Homo sapiens: one gene and its partner. The protein of the gene in region 1 interacts with the protein of each later gene in a biochemical or structural test. Each region holds a gene or a part of one and is shown on either strand. Other genes may lie near its edges.

Region 1 (7,028 bases):
CCAAAGAATTCCTAGAGAGAACCCTGTAGTCCTCTGCCAGCAAAGAGATGTTACTGTCTAAATCCGCTGATAAGCTTGTCAGTCATTGGTAGTCCACACTGCTGAGAATACACTAAGAAAATTCAGCAAGAAATGACAATTTACATCTTGCTGGCAAGATTCCAGGTAGTTCAGATAAGGGAAAATTGCATGAAGAAATCCAAATTACTATGAACCTATCTGAACACGTACCTTAGCCATATAAGATAAATAAGCATGCAGCAATTCGATCTCCTAATTACTAATTCACAGATAATGTAACAAGCTACACTATTTAGTTACCATATGTAATTCTATAGGATTCATTGGGGTTATCTTGACAAGTGATATTTTCTCCATGAAAGCATTTTAAAAGGGCTTATTCTTTCAATGAACGTGACTATTTGCTTCTTAATTAACTCATCTACTATTTAAATGCCTCCATTAACTGCTTTTTACTCTGGCACTCAAAAGACTAAACATTAATATTAAGAGCACAAACCAACTTTTACTTTCGTAATAATCCAGAAAGGACATCTGCTTTAAATGTTGTTTTATTTATTTTGTTCGTCACTTCAATTAAGTGATCAGAAGGTACAGACAATATATAAACATTACAAATGACCCAAAAAAGGCTGAGTGGTTCCAGCCAACATAACAGGTTTTCATAACAGAATGAAGACATCTTATTTCTTGATTTCATCTGACCTTATAGCTTAGCTGCATGAGCTAAAGCTGTGTTGACCAACACAGTAGCCAGGAGCCACACTGAAACACACTACTGGGCACTTACACCTTGGCTAGTTCTAAAGGCAATATGATAAAAGACATGGGTAAAAGACATGGCATATTTTGGAGAGCTTTTTTTTTTTTTTAAGAAAGTAAAATATCTCAACAATGTTTACACTGATTATATTTTGAAAGAATAATTTGAAGAAACTGGGTTAAACAAAATATATTATTAAAATTAATTTCACCTACTTCTGCTTTTTTCTTCACTGTGGCTACAGACAACTTAAAATTACATATGTGGCTCACATGATATTTCCATTGGCCAGAGCTGATCTAGAATGATGCAGATCTTCCCCTCTCCAACTCTTGGGGTGTTTGATGATCTGAATTGTAACATATACAGAATGGCAATTATTTGAATAATTTCAGCACCAAATTACTCCTTTGTTATCCAATTCACTATATGACTGTCATATACATTTGTCACAGGAGTGACAGATCTATCAAACATGGTAAGAATTACAGAAAACATGCAAGTGGGTGAGGAATATTTAGCAAGCAGTCAAAATAAAGCATTGGGTTCAATACTGAAACTACTGTGCTGTGCTTAAACTCTTCATACGGTAGGATACAAAAGTTTATGGAAAGCCTCAATAATCTCCTGACTTTTTACTTAATCATCTCCTATCTTTCAAAATTAAATATTTTTAAATCTTTTTTACAATTACCGGTAGTATTTTTTAAACTATTGACTTACATATTTTGTAGCTCCAACATTTAAATAAGGGCCTTTAAATTTTCTATGTTATGTTTATCAAAATGGGGCATGAATTTAAGAAGACTGAGAAACACCATCAAATACAAAAGTCGGACTCACACAGTTGAATCCAAAGGGGATCAGAACATGCCACTCCAAAATATGCTACTTTGGCATCAGTATTATTTTGAACTGAAGGCAAATAGGAAACGGAAGACAGGAGCACTCTCTCCCCTGGCCCTTTCTGTGTAAAAGTAGAACACAAAATTCCCTTTGTAAATGTGACAGAAATGTCCGTTTGTAAAGATGATCATCTCTCCCTTACCAGTGAGAACAACTTTTATCATGAAAATGATGCAAAAACCCCAAATCTATCCTCTTCTTTGGGTCTCTTCTTTTCTGCGTAGCCCCCATGAATATGAAATTAAAAACATCAATTAAATGTTAATCTGTGTTCTGTTAGTTTTAATTCACAGGCCTCACTTATAGAACCTCAAAGAGTAAAATTTTTCCTCCCTCACAAAACCAAGAATGAATACGCACCATAAGACAACGGAAGTGCAGGAGAGTTCTAAATGACTTAAAAACTCTTTAATGGTATATCCATGCAATGACTACTACTCAGCAATGACCAGTACTGAACTATGAATACAGGCAACATGGATGAATCCCAAAATAATCACATAGTGAAAGAAGTCAGACAAAAGAGAACATACTGTATGATTCCATGTATTTAAAGCTCTAGAGAACGCAAACTAATCTACAGTGACATAAAGCAAATGAGTAGTTTACTTGGAGATGGGAGGGGTGGGTAGAGGAAAGGACTACCAAGATGCATGAGGAAACTTTCGGGGGTGATGGATATGTTCACTATCTTGATTGTGGGGGATAGCTTCAAAACAGCCAAAATTCAACAAATTGTACACTCTCAATATGTGTAGTTTATTGTCAATTATGACTTATACCACAATAAAACAGTTAAACAATTATAACTTATACCACAATAAAACAGTTAAACACTCCCTCCCACCTCCTTGAGAAAAGGATAGGGGCTGAATAGGTTGACTTTAGCATCCAACAGATGTTCACTGAACATCTTAATGAAGCTAGCTAGGGAGCAATAACCCAGGCCCCAGGGCTATTTCTTCTCATTTTCCTCCCTCAGCCAAAGAGCTAAAAATACTTTGTGACTTAGTCTAACCCGATATATATTCAATAGATTAAATCAGAATGAAGAGCCATTCCAATGCTATAGTTTTGTAAAACAGCATAGGATAACTGCATTTCCTAGCCCAGAAAACTGTGAATGTGATGGGAAAGGGTTGGAAGGGTCAGACAACACTCCACTGAATCATATCGATGAGGCCCCTGTAATCCCAAATTAGAAAATGAGGCCGAGCGTGGTGGCTCACTCCTGTAATCCCAACACTTTTGGAGGCTGAGGCGGGGAGATCACCTGACCTGAGGTCAGGCGTTCAAGACCAGCCAGGCTAACATGGTGAAACTCTGTTCCTACTAAAAAAAAAAAAAAAAAAAAAGAAGAACAAAAGAAAATGAATGCTGTCCAGAAGTGGATTCAGGCCTGACTTATTAAAATGCAATACCCTGGGACACTTGTGGGGAGTGAGAAGCCGAGGAGGAAATACATAAGCTTTATGAAATTTACCCAGTAATGCCTTAGACAAAGCAAGACCTATTAAGGGGGCTGCTATGGTCTGAATGTTTATATTCCCCCCAAATTCATATGTTGACATCCTAACCCCCAAAGTAATGGTATTAGGGGGTGGGGTCTTTGGGAGGCAATTAGATCACAAGGGCAGAGTTCTAATGAATGGGATTAGTGCCCTTATAAAATAGGTACCAGAGAGCAGCCTTGCCCCTTCCATACCATATGAAGACACAGCAACACGGCATCATCTATGAGGCCCTCACCATTCACAGAATCTGCCAGTGCCTTGATCTGGTACTTCCCAGCCTCCAGAACTATGAGAAATAAATGTATGTTTATAAGGGACCCAGTGTTTGATATTTTGTTATAGCACCCGAAATGAACTAAAACAGGGGCCTAGCAAGGTATAAGAGAAACTGGACATATCTTAAATATATCGGAAAGGAGTTTTTAAATTGTAGAATAATCTTTAATCTTTATGACTCTATCATCATGGTTTTGTTACGTTAGTGATATCTTATGAACACAGAAGGATAGCTTCTCATGACCATTTTCTATGACAGTTCCCTGAAGCAAGGTATCCTATGGAGCCACCTGAGTACACAATATAAAGTTACTGTGAAATTAACAATATAGTGAATTGGTTAACAAAGGAGTAATTTGGTGCTGAAATTATTCAAATAATTGCCATTCTGTATATGTTACAATTCAGATTATCAAACACACCAAGAGTTGGAGAGGGGATGATCTGCATCATTCTAGATCAGCTCTGGCCAATGGAAATATCATGTGAGCCACATATGTAATTTTGTCTGTAGCCACAGTAAAGAAAAAAGCAGAAGTAGGTGAAATTAATTTTAATAATATATTTTATTTAACCCACTTTCTTCAAATTATTATTTCAACATATAATCAGTATAAACATTGACTATTAACACTTAATTTTAAGCAGAAATCAAAATTTTTTAAAATACGTTCTCCACTGGTATCCTACATGCCACGTGGTAGTGAACTGTATCATATCTCTTCAAAAGACCTGAGACATCAGTTCAAACAAATGCTATTAGTATCAACTCAAATTATATAACATTTAATAATCTCAGATCAGATGATGCTCATTTAGAAAGGCAGCAATTGGTGAAATCTATTGATCAACAGCTGCTCTATCCATTTGTTATATCAAAATAACTTAAATATCTTCATTTTCAAAATATGTGTCTTGGGGATTTTCTTGTGGGAGTGGTATCTGGGTGATCTAATTACAGGCAAGCTTTCCGTCTTCTTTTCACTTGTATCTTCCATACCTTTTAAAATGTGCTATTTACTAAAATAAATAATTACCTTATGTATTTTATTATCAAAATAATTTTAAAACATAAGCAACAACATTAAGTTTTTTCTTAATTTTTTTTTTTGGTAGTTGATGTTACTGGGTTTTTTTTCTTCTTTTTTAATAAATGTTTCATTTTTCACTTTCCCCTCATGCACTTATTTATAGCACCTTGGATCTGGAGGCAGAGTGGTTTACAAGAAAATAACAATGAATGTTGCTTTTGCAGACACAAATAAAACTAAAAAGTGGATAAAGATAAGAATTCCCTAAACAAAACAAATTTAACCACCACAGGCAGACAGGCCAGAAGAAAAAAAGTAAGAGTTTGTCTCCTTTTATTTATTTATTTATTTTTAACTTAGCTGGCCAGATTGGGAAGAATGGCTCTAATGGTTTCATTAACTCAACAAATAAAATTGCAACACCTAAAAAACAAAAAAAAAAAAAAGTTTTTATTTTATGTAACATAAATTCCCTTTTATTAATCATATTTTCCCAAAAGGGGGAAACATTTCTGAAGGAAAAAAGATTATGCCATACATTACCCCACAAAACACGTATAAGACAGACAGTTTTTAGATCAATGGAATTTAAAGAATAAATTCTGTTGTTTTAATCAGACTCAAAAACCACTGAGACATTTACAACACAGTGTTTCAGCTTTGCCAAATTTAGCGCTTTACTATTTTTAAGAACCATTAAAAGAAATATTTTAAGAAAACGAATGCTTTTATAAAACACTTAAAAAAAAAATTAATGCTCTGTCCACAAAAAGGCCACAGAGGCACAATTTCCCAATGAACATCCAGAGAAAGAAAATAAGTGGCCTCAGGCCAAAGATAAAATACCTTTGTCCTCAAATAGCAGCTTCCCTTTCTTGCCAAACATCAAATTACCCCAGTAATGCTCAGACTATGCACTAGCCTCCAATACGAGCTCACTGCCTCAGAGTCTCACTAGTTTACACACTAAGTCTCTTTGAGAACCTTGTTATGAGCTAAACTGTGTCTCCTAAAAATTCACAGGAAATCCTAATCCCTGTACCTCACAATATAACTGTATTTGGAGATAAAGGTTAAATGAGGTCACTAGGGGTGGGCTCTAACACAATATGACTGGTTCCCTTATAAAAAATTAGGCTATAGACATACACAGAGGGAGGGCATGTGAAGAAACAGGGAGAACTCAGCCATCTACAAGCCAAAGAGCGAGGCTTGGTAGAAACCAATCCCACCAACACTTTGATTTTAGACTTCCAGCCTCCAGAACTGTGAGGAAATAAATTCCTGTGGTTTCAGCCACCCACTCTGTGTTATTTTGTCAAGGCAGCCCTATCAAACTAATACAGATTTTGGTACCAGGAAATGGGGTGCTGCTGTAACAAACACCAAAAATGTGGAAGTGGCTTTGGAACTGGGTAATAGGTAATGGCTACAAACGTTTTAGGGTGCATGTTAGAAAAAGCCCAGATTGCACTGAAGAGGTTAACTCTCAGAAGGAAATGTGACTTGGGTTATTGGAAAGTGGAAACTTCAAGAGATAAAAGTCAGCCTATACTTCATTGCTCTCCATTAATTGCTCTTCCCTATCCAACCTTTTCCCCTGGGCACAAATCCTCTATTCCACTCCAGAAATATACAAATTGAATATGCTCTCCAGTACCCACTGCCCACTCACATCCCAGCCTCTTCTATACATGTCCATTTTCAAGGGAAAACCACTGACTTAAGCTCTACTTCATATCAAAAAAACTTTCATTTCCACCCTCTCATCTCAAGACCAAAGCCTTTCTGTGTCTTATTTACTAACCTCAATGATAAGAGCAACTAATCCCTATACTTCACTACTTTCCTAGAATCCCTGTAACATTTTTAACATGTAAAACCTTTCTGTTATTTCTCCCATTAGATTCCTCCAACTAAGACCCTACACTTCTGGAGCAGAATCATGTTTATTCTGTACTCTCCCCAATGCCTAACCCAATACAACATTCTTCCTAATCCATCTATTACTACCTACTACATGAATACCTCGGATCTTCTCTGGAAACGTATCACAGGAAGGCAATGGATTCCTCACCACTGGTTTCCTTTATCGAGAAGTAGTTATTTACCTCCTTAGTCTTATTCTCCCACATGGAATCCCACTAAAATTATTTAATCACAGTATATCAATTTTACCATGCTAAATATCATTTCCGAACTGTACTTATATAAATGCTCTCCTATGCATGACACTAATTTACAAGAAAAAATGAAACCTTTATTGTTATAAATATGGGGTTGATAATGTACGTAACAATATCAAATGAAATCCTACTTTAGGCCAAATATCTATTTTCAAAAGTACATACAACTGTTTTGGACATATATCATCACTCATACGCACCATCAAGCAGTCCTAAATTCACCAGGAAGTTGTCTGCTTCTTCTCTTTAAAGTGTAGGATCTTTCTCTGGCAGATGTGCTATTTGCTCTACCATATTTGGGGACATTCCAGTCCAACTTTGCCTCAAAATA
Region 2 (7,138 bases), on another chromosome or scaffold:
CAACCATACGATTATCTCAATAGAGGCAGAAAAGCATTTTGATAAAATTCAACATCCCTTCATGTTAAAAACTCTCAATAAACTAGGTATTGATGGAACGTATCTCAAAATAAGAGCTATTTATGACAAACCCACAGCCAATATCATATTGAATGAGCAAAAGCTGCAAGCATTCCCTTTGAAAACCGGTACAAGGCAAGGATGCCCTGTCTCACCACTCCTGCTCAACATAGTATTGGAATTTCTGGCCAGGGCAATCAGGCAAGAGAAAGAAATTAAGGGGATTCAAATAGGAAGAGAGGAAGTCGAATTGTCTGTTTGCTGATGACATGATTCTATATTTAGAAAACCCCATCATTTCCACCCCAAAACTTCTTAAGCGATAAGCAACTTCAGCAAAATCTCAGGTTACAAAATCAATGTGCAAAAATTATAAGCATTCCTTTACACCAACAATAGACAAGCAGAGAGCCAAATCATGAATGAACCTCCATTCACAATTGCTACAAAGAGAATGCTCCCAACACAATGAAATGATAAATGTCTGAGGTGATGACTGTCCTAAATATCCTGATTTGATGATTACACTTATATTCATGTATCAAAATATCACATGTACCCCCAAAATATGTACAGTTATTACTGTACATATTAATTATTACTGTACATATTATTGCAATGTTTTGGAAAACCAGCCAGTGTGCCAGGGAAGTATGGAGCCTGTTCTGCAAATTCAATCTGAAACATGGTTAATTTGAAGTCACAGCAGAATAAGCAAATGGAGATGAGGGAACTGTGAGTAATTTCGACTATTAAAGTAATTTGGAGTGCCAGATTTGGGGTGGGGTGAGGGTATATGGCAGTCCTAGCATTCATCAAATGAGTGAATTCCTTACCTCAATGTAGCAAGTTAAACTCCTAGATGTCCACGGTAGGTGGCATAGTGGAAGGAGATTTTGAGTCTGAAGTTTGGGTTCAAACCCCAGCGTAACAAATTCAAGCATTTTTTGAACAAACTGCGATTTCATTAGACACACACATACATACATACCTACGGTGCTATGTATATACATCTTTTATTTACAACGACGTATATCGTTGTAACAACGAGCTATTTGTTTCTGTTATCCTGCTTTATAGATGAGGTGACTGAGATTTAGGTTAATGAGTTTCTCACATTCACTCAATCAGAACTGACACATTGGGATTTGAGCCCCCGTTCTGCCTCCAGATTTCACAATCTAACTATTCTACCATGGGATGGAGGACAGCAATAATGCCCACCTCCCCCGGGGTCAGGAGAAAGAGCTGAAATGCTGTATGTGGAAGCAGCTCTCCAAACTTAAAGCCTAATTGTCCTTGGAAGGGGCCTGTGATGGGGGTGGCAAAGGGACTCCTATTCTTCATTCCTCCAACTTGTATTTCCCACCCCTTTCTAGTAGGGAACCCACTCTCTCAGTACAAAGAGCAACAGGGTTCCCAGTCTTGCCTCTATCCTGGTTCTGCTGCCCTCTCAGACAGGAGCAGCTGGACCCCACTCTGTCTGTCCGGAATGGTCCAGGATGTCAGGGTGGGACTCCTGGTGTCAGGCCTCATGGTGCAACTGCAGGGGAGACAGAAGATGAGGGCACACGGTATTACAGGCTTCCCACATCACAAATGACTTCTTTCTGCAGTCTTGTTCTTACCATTCAGAGCTCTATGGGACATCTGCTGATGGGAGGGAGGGTAGAGGGCAGGTGACAAGACTGAGGAAGGCCAGAGAACTCCCAGGGAAATTGAGAAATTGATCCCTCTGCTTGCTTGCTTCCTTTTTTCTTCTTTCTTTTCCTTTCTTTTTTTTTGAAATGGAGTCTCACTCTGCCCAGGTTGGAGTGCAGTGGCACGATCTCGGCTCACGGCAATCTCCACCTCCCGGGTTCAAGCCATTCTCCTGCCTCAGCCTCCTGAGTATCTGGGATTACAGGCGTGAGCCATTGCATCTGGCCAGATACCTCTGCTTTGTAACCCACAAGGCAAGCATCTCCTGCACTCATGTGCATCACGATCACCTGTGATGCTTCATAACAAAAAGCTGACTTTCTGACTTTCTGACTCTCTCTCTTGAAGTCCTGAAGTCTCTCTTGAAGTCCTGTTTCTGAGAACCAAGTTCTTTTTAGCAAGCATGCAGTAGTTCTGATGCTATACTTTGGGAAACACTGCTCTGAGTTTGTAAGAGTCAGTGGGTTCTGAACACTGATGTGGTCAGATGGTCACAGAGACACAGACCCCTCTGTTGTGTTGCTGGGGTGTGAGGGGGGAGATTGTAGGGGCAATATGGAAAAGGGGTCCAAGCTTGCAGTGGAAACACTGGGCTTTGTACCTCTTCTGTTACTTCCTAGCTGTATGACCTTGAGTAGGGCCCACGACCTGCCTAAATCCCCTCTTCTCACCTAGGTAGTCATTCTCACAGGCTGTGAGAATTACATGCAACAGAGAATGTGAAAGTACCTTGAAAACTGTAGAGTGCTTCTAAGATTCAAGGGATTGTTCTATTACCTTTGAAGACTAAGAGGTGAGATTACATGAGTTCCCAAAGTGTGTGAGTATGTTTGTGTGACAGAGAAAATGGAGAAGAGAGAAGATAAGAGAGAAGATAAGAGAGAAGAGGGAGAAAGAGCATGAGGCTGAGATGTACAGACCTTACCCACTGCTCTGTGCTGCTCTCAGAGTTCACTGGTTCAGCTTCCTCCACGTTCCTGTTCTACAGGATGAAAACACATTCAGGTCATAAAAGACCAGAATGCATTATTTTCTGAATAGGTCTTGGAGACTCATCCTATTGGCTAAAGGTACAGAGCAGAGAACTTGTTGCCTGGGTCTTCAGCTTCTGTAAAAAAGGAGACAGGATTTCAGGCTATTGATGCCCCAATGAGATTTGTGGGATATGAGAACTGAGTCTTGGATCCTAGATTCATGAAGAAACGGGATGAACAGGGAGCACATCAGGTCTGCTTATCCATTTTGGAGAGAACTTGGGGATGCAATCCCCAGATAGCCTCTTGAGATGAACATGGATAATTGCTCCGATGTTATTCTCTAGAGGTGAGGGTCTTGGGAAATGAGTCTTGTTTACAAGAAATAAACCAGCTCCTTATTGTGCAGTAATCCTAAAATATACCCTAGGAAGGCTGGGTGTGGTGGCTCACACCTGAAATCCCAGCATTTGGGAGGCCGAGGCAGGCAGATCACCTGAGGTCAGGAGTTCATGACCATCTTGGCCAACATGGTGAAACCCCCATCTCTACTAAAAATACAAAAATTAGTTGGGCGTGCTGGCACTTACCTGTTGTCCCAGATGCTTGGGAGACTGAGGCAGGAGGATCGCTTCAACCTGGGAGGTGGAGGTTGCAGTGAGCCGAGATGGCACCACTGCACTCCAGCCTGGGCAACAGAGTGAGACTCCATCTGAAAAAAAAAAAAATAAAAGATAAAATACATATAACAGTAAGCCAAAGTAACAGTAAGCCAAAAATAAAGCGGACTCTACATGTATTGCCTGTTGACTTTGAGTAGGGAGAGGTCTGGCAAATTTAAGGTACTAAACTTCAACTAGAATGATTCCAGATGTCTGTGACCCAAAGTACTAAGCAAAAGCAAGAAAGAAATCCTATTTAGAGGAACATAATGTCACCTTAGAGCTGAAATAACAGAATTATTTCTGTTAATAATTTTTCAAGCACAATATCCAACATAAACCCAAAGATAAAAAGACACAAGGAAGATTCCAATAGCAAGAACCAACACAGGGGAGGCATATAGGGACTCTAGATAATATAGTTATTAGACATAGATGGAAAAATAATGATGCTACATTATTTTAGGAAATAAAATGAAGCCTGAAAATTTTATCAGGAATGTTTACAAACAGGCCAGTCATGAGTAACCAGCACTCAGATGAAAAACACATTACTGACCCTCCAGAAATGACCAAATATTCCTTTCTAGTCACTGTTCCTGCACAGGTACTCACTATCCTAACTGCTAATATCATTAAGCTAGCTTTATCTATTTTCTTACTTTATTTAAATGGAAGTATACAGTTTGTACTCTTTTGTGTTGGCGTTTTTCACTCATTGTATATGTCAGATTCATCCACACAGTTGTATGTGGTTGTAGGTTGTTCATGCTCATTGCTGTATGGTGTTCTATTGTGTGAAGAGACCACTAAACACCCATTGTGGGCATTAGTAGTTTCCGGTTTTTGTCCTGAGTCGTGTAGCTACGCATATCTCTTAGGCATATATACTTAAGAGTGGAATTTATAAATCACATGGCAGGCCTATGTATAGTTTTTGTAGCCAGTGCTAAACACTTTTCCAAAGTACTAGACTTGTATCAATTTTCCCTACTGCCAGCAGTGTATGAGAGTTCTAGTTGCTCAATACCTTAACATGATTTGGTATTTTTCATCCTTTTCATTTTAGCTGTTGTGGTGAGTATAGCGGTATCTCGCCATGGTTGAATTTTTTTTTTTTTAAAAAAAGATACATAATAGAGGTACATGTGATAATTTAATATCTTCATAAAATTTGTCAAGATCAAATTGGTGTAATTGGGATATATATCACTTTAAATAGTTGTCTTTTTTTATGCTAGAAACATCTGAATTGTTCCCCTTTTACTATTTTGAAATATACAATAGATGATTGTAAACTATATTCAGTCTTACTGCTTCTATCAAACTGTACTTTTGTACCTATTAATCAACATTTCTTCCTCCCCCTCCCCTCACTCTTCCTGGCCTCTGGTGACCACCAGTCTGCTCGTTTATCATCATGGGATCCACTTTTTAAACTTTCACATGTTGAGTGACAACATATAATATTTGTGTTTCTGTGCTTGACTTATTTCACCGAACATAATGACTTCTAGTTTCATCTATGTTGCTGCAAAGGACAGGATTTCATTTTTTTTTTGGCTGGATAATATTCCACTGCGTATATATGCCATATTTTCTTTCTTCATTCATCCTTTGATGGGCATTTGGGTTGATTCCATATTTTGGCCATTGTGAATAGTGATGCAGTAAACGTGGAAGTGTAGATATCTCCTCGATACATTGATTTCTTTTCTTTTGAATATATGTCCAAGAGTAGAATTGCTGATTTCCATTTACATTTCTCTGATGACTAATGAAGTTAAGCACTTTTCATAGAGTTATTATCCAAAAGTATATTGTCTTTGTAAATCACCTACTCAAGTGTTCTTCTCATTTTTTTCTATTGGGTTATCTGGTTTTTTTTAAATGTTGATTTGTAATTCTTCATATTTTCTGGCTATGAGCCTTTGTCAGATGTTTGTAACAAGACTATCTTACCCACCTTTGTGGGTTGGCTTTTGTTCAATTAATGGTGCCGTTAGAGAAATAGAAGAGTTTTAATGTTTTAATTTATCAATTGTTAAATAATTAGTGCTGTCTATATCTTAAGAAATCTTTGCTAAATTTTTGTCATGTTCTCTATGATTTCATCAGGAAGATTTGCTTTTACCTTTCACATTTAGATCTGTGATCAATGTGGAATTGATATTTATATTTGGTGAGGTAGAGATCAACATACATTTTTCTTCCTGAAGTGTGGATATTCAACGGATCCAGTGCCATTTGGAGAAAAGCCGTCCTTTCCCTGCTCCATCACAGTGGAAATCTTTATCATCAGTCTGGTGACTATATATATGAATCTGTTTCTGGAATCTTAATCTCTTCCATTTGTCAGTTTGCCTATCCTTATATCAATAGTCTACATATTAATTATTATATCTTCTAATAGGATTGCTATATGGTTTGCTTGTTCTTCTTCTTCAGTATTTCCTTTTTTTCTTTTTTTGACACAGCCCAGGCTGGAGTGTAGTGAATGGCGTGATCTTAACTCACTGCAACCTCCACCTCCCGGGTTCAAGCAATTTTCCTGCATAAGCCTCCTGGGTAGCTGGAATTATAGGCATGTGCCAGCATGCCCAGCTAATTTTTGTATTTTTAGTAGAGACGGGGTTTCACTATGTTGGCCAGGCTGGTCTTGAACTCCTGGCCTCAAGTGATCCACCTGCCTCAGCCTCCCAAAGTGCTAGGATTACAGGCATGAGCCACTGCACCTGGCTGGAATTCGTGTCCTTTTAAAAGAGACTCCAGAGAGCTCCCTTGTCCCCTTCTGACATGTAAAGACGCAGCAAAAAGATGGCCATCTGTGAATCAGGAAGTGGGTACTCACCAGACACGGAATCTTCTGGCAAATGGATCTTGAACTTCCCAGCCTCCAGACAGAACTGTGAGAAATAAATTTCTGTTATGTATGTCACTCACTCTATACTATTTTGTTATAGCAGCCTGAATGGATTAAGATATGCTGTTTGAAGGTATTGAGACCCTGTCCTGTTCCTCAACAGCTTTTAGGGTTTTCGTTTATATTTGGTTTCAGTAGTTTTCTCCAATATGCCTATGTTTGGTTTTCTCTCGATTTATACTGCTTGAGATTTGCTGAGCTCCTTCAACCTGTAGTGTTATGTCTTTTATCTGTTTGAAAAATTCTTGGTTAATTATCTTCTCAAATATATGACCCTGTTCCATTCTCTTTCTCCTGTCCTTCTGGGACTCCAGTGATACATAATTAGGCCTTCTGTGCATGTTCCATTTATCTCTTATGGCTGTATCTGGGGTTTCTTCCTTTAATTTTTTTTGCACTTCAGTTTAGGTATTTTATATTGACTTGTCTTCTAGTTTATTGATTCTGTATCTTGCTATGTCCAACTTGTTAAATTCATGCACTGAGTTCTTAATTTCAGATACTGTAGTGTTCACATCCAGAATGTCCATTGTGCTCTTTATGCTATTTGCTAGTAAAATTATTCATCTTTTTATCTATTTCACATACTAATTGTTATCTTAAATTCCTTGTCTGCCACCTCTAAGATCAGAGTCATCTTTCAATCTTTATTTTTTGGTCTTAATTATTAGGCATGTAATTTTGCCTCTTGCCTGTGTGTAGTAATTTTTTTAGTATGTGCTGGGAGTCATGGATACTAGGGTTACAGTGGCTTCAAGTGTTGTTACCTCTACCAGAGATGGTTCTTCTTTTCCTCTTTAATGCAGATACGGTGAGTG

Evidence for each region. Proteins that work in one complex are often made in the same cells at the same time.
Region 2: the proteins of MPDZ (region 1) and OR1D2 interact in a test that uses a peptide from one of them, tested with the Homo sapiens proteins (one study listed by IntAct).

What each region holds. Positions count from the first base shown.
Region 1 is NC_000009.12:13,269,677-13,276,704, forward strand, and holds part of MPDZ (multiple PDZ domain protein), read right to left. Parts: exon of another isoform or gene 6,898-7,028; intron 1-6,897. UniProt on the Homo sapiens protein: Member of the NMDAR signaling complex that may play a role in control of AMPAR potentiation and synaptic plasticity in excitatory synapses. Promotes clustering of HT2RC at the cell surface.
Region 2 is NC_000017.11:3,101,418-3,108,555, forward strand, and holds the start of OR1D2 (olfactory receptor 1D2), read right to left. Parts: upstream 3,006-7,138; 5' UTR 2,682-3,005; intron 1-2,681. UniProt on the Homo sapiens protein: Odorant receptor which may be involved in sperm chemotaxis. Bourgeonal is a strong chemoattractant for sperm in vitro and is shown to be a strong agonist for OR1D2 in vitro. May also function in olfactory reception.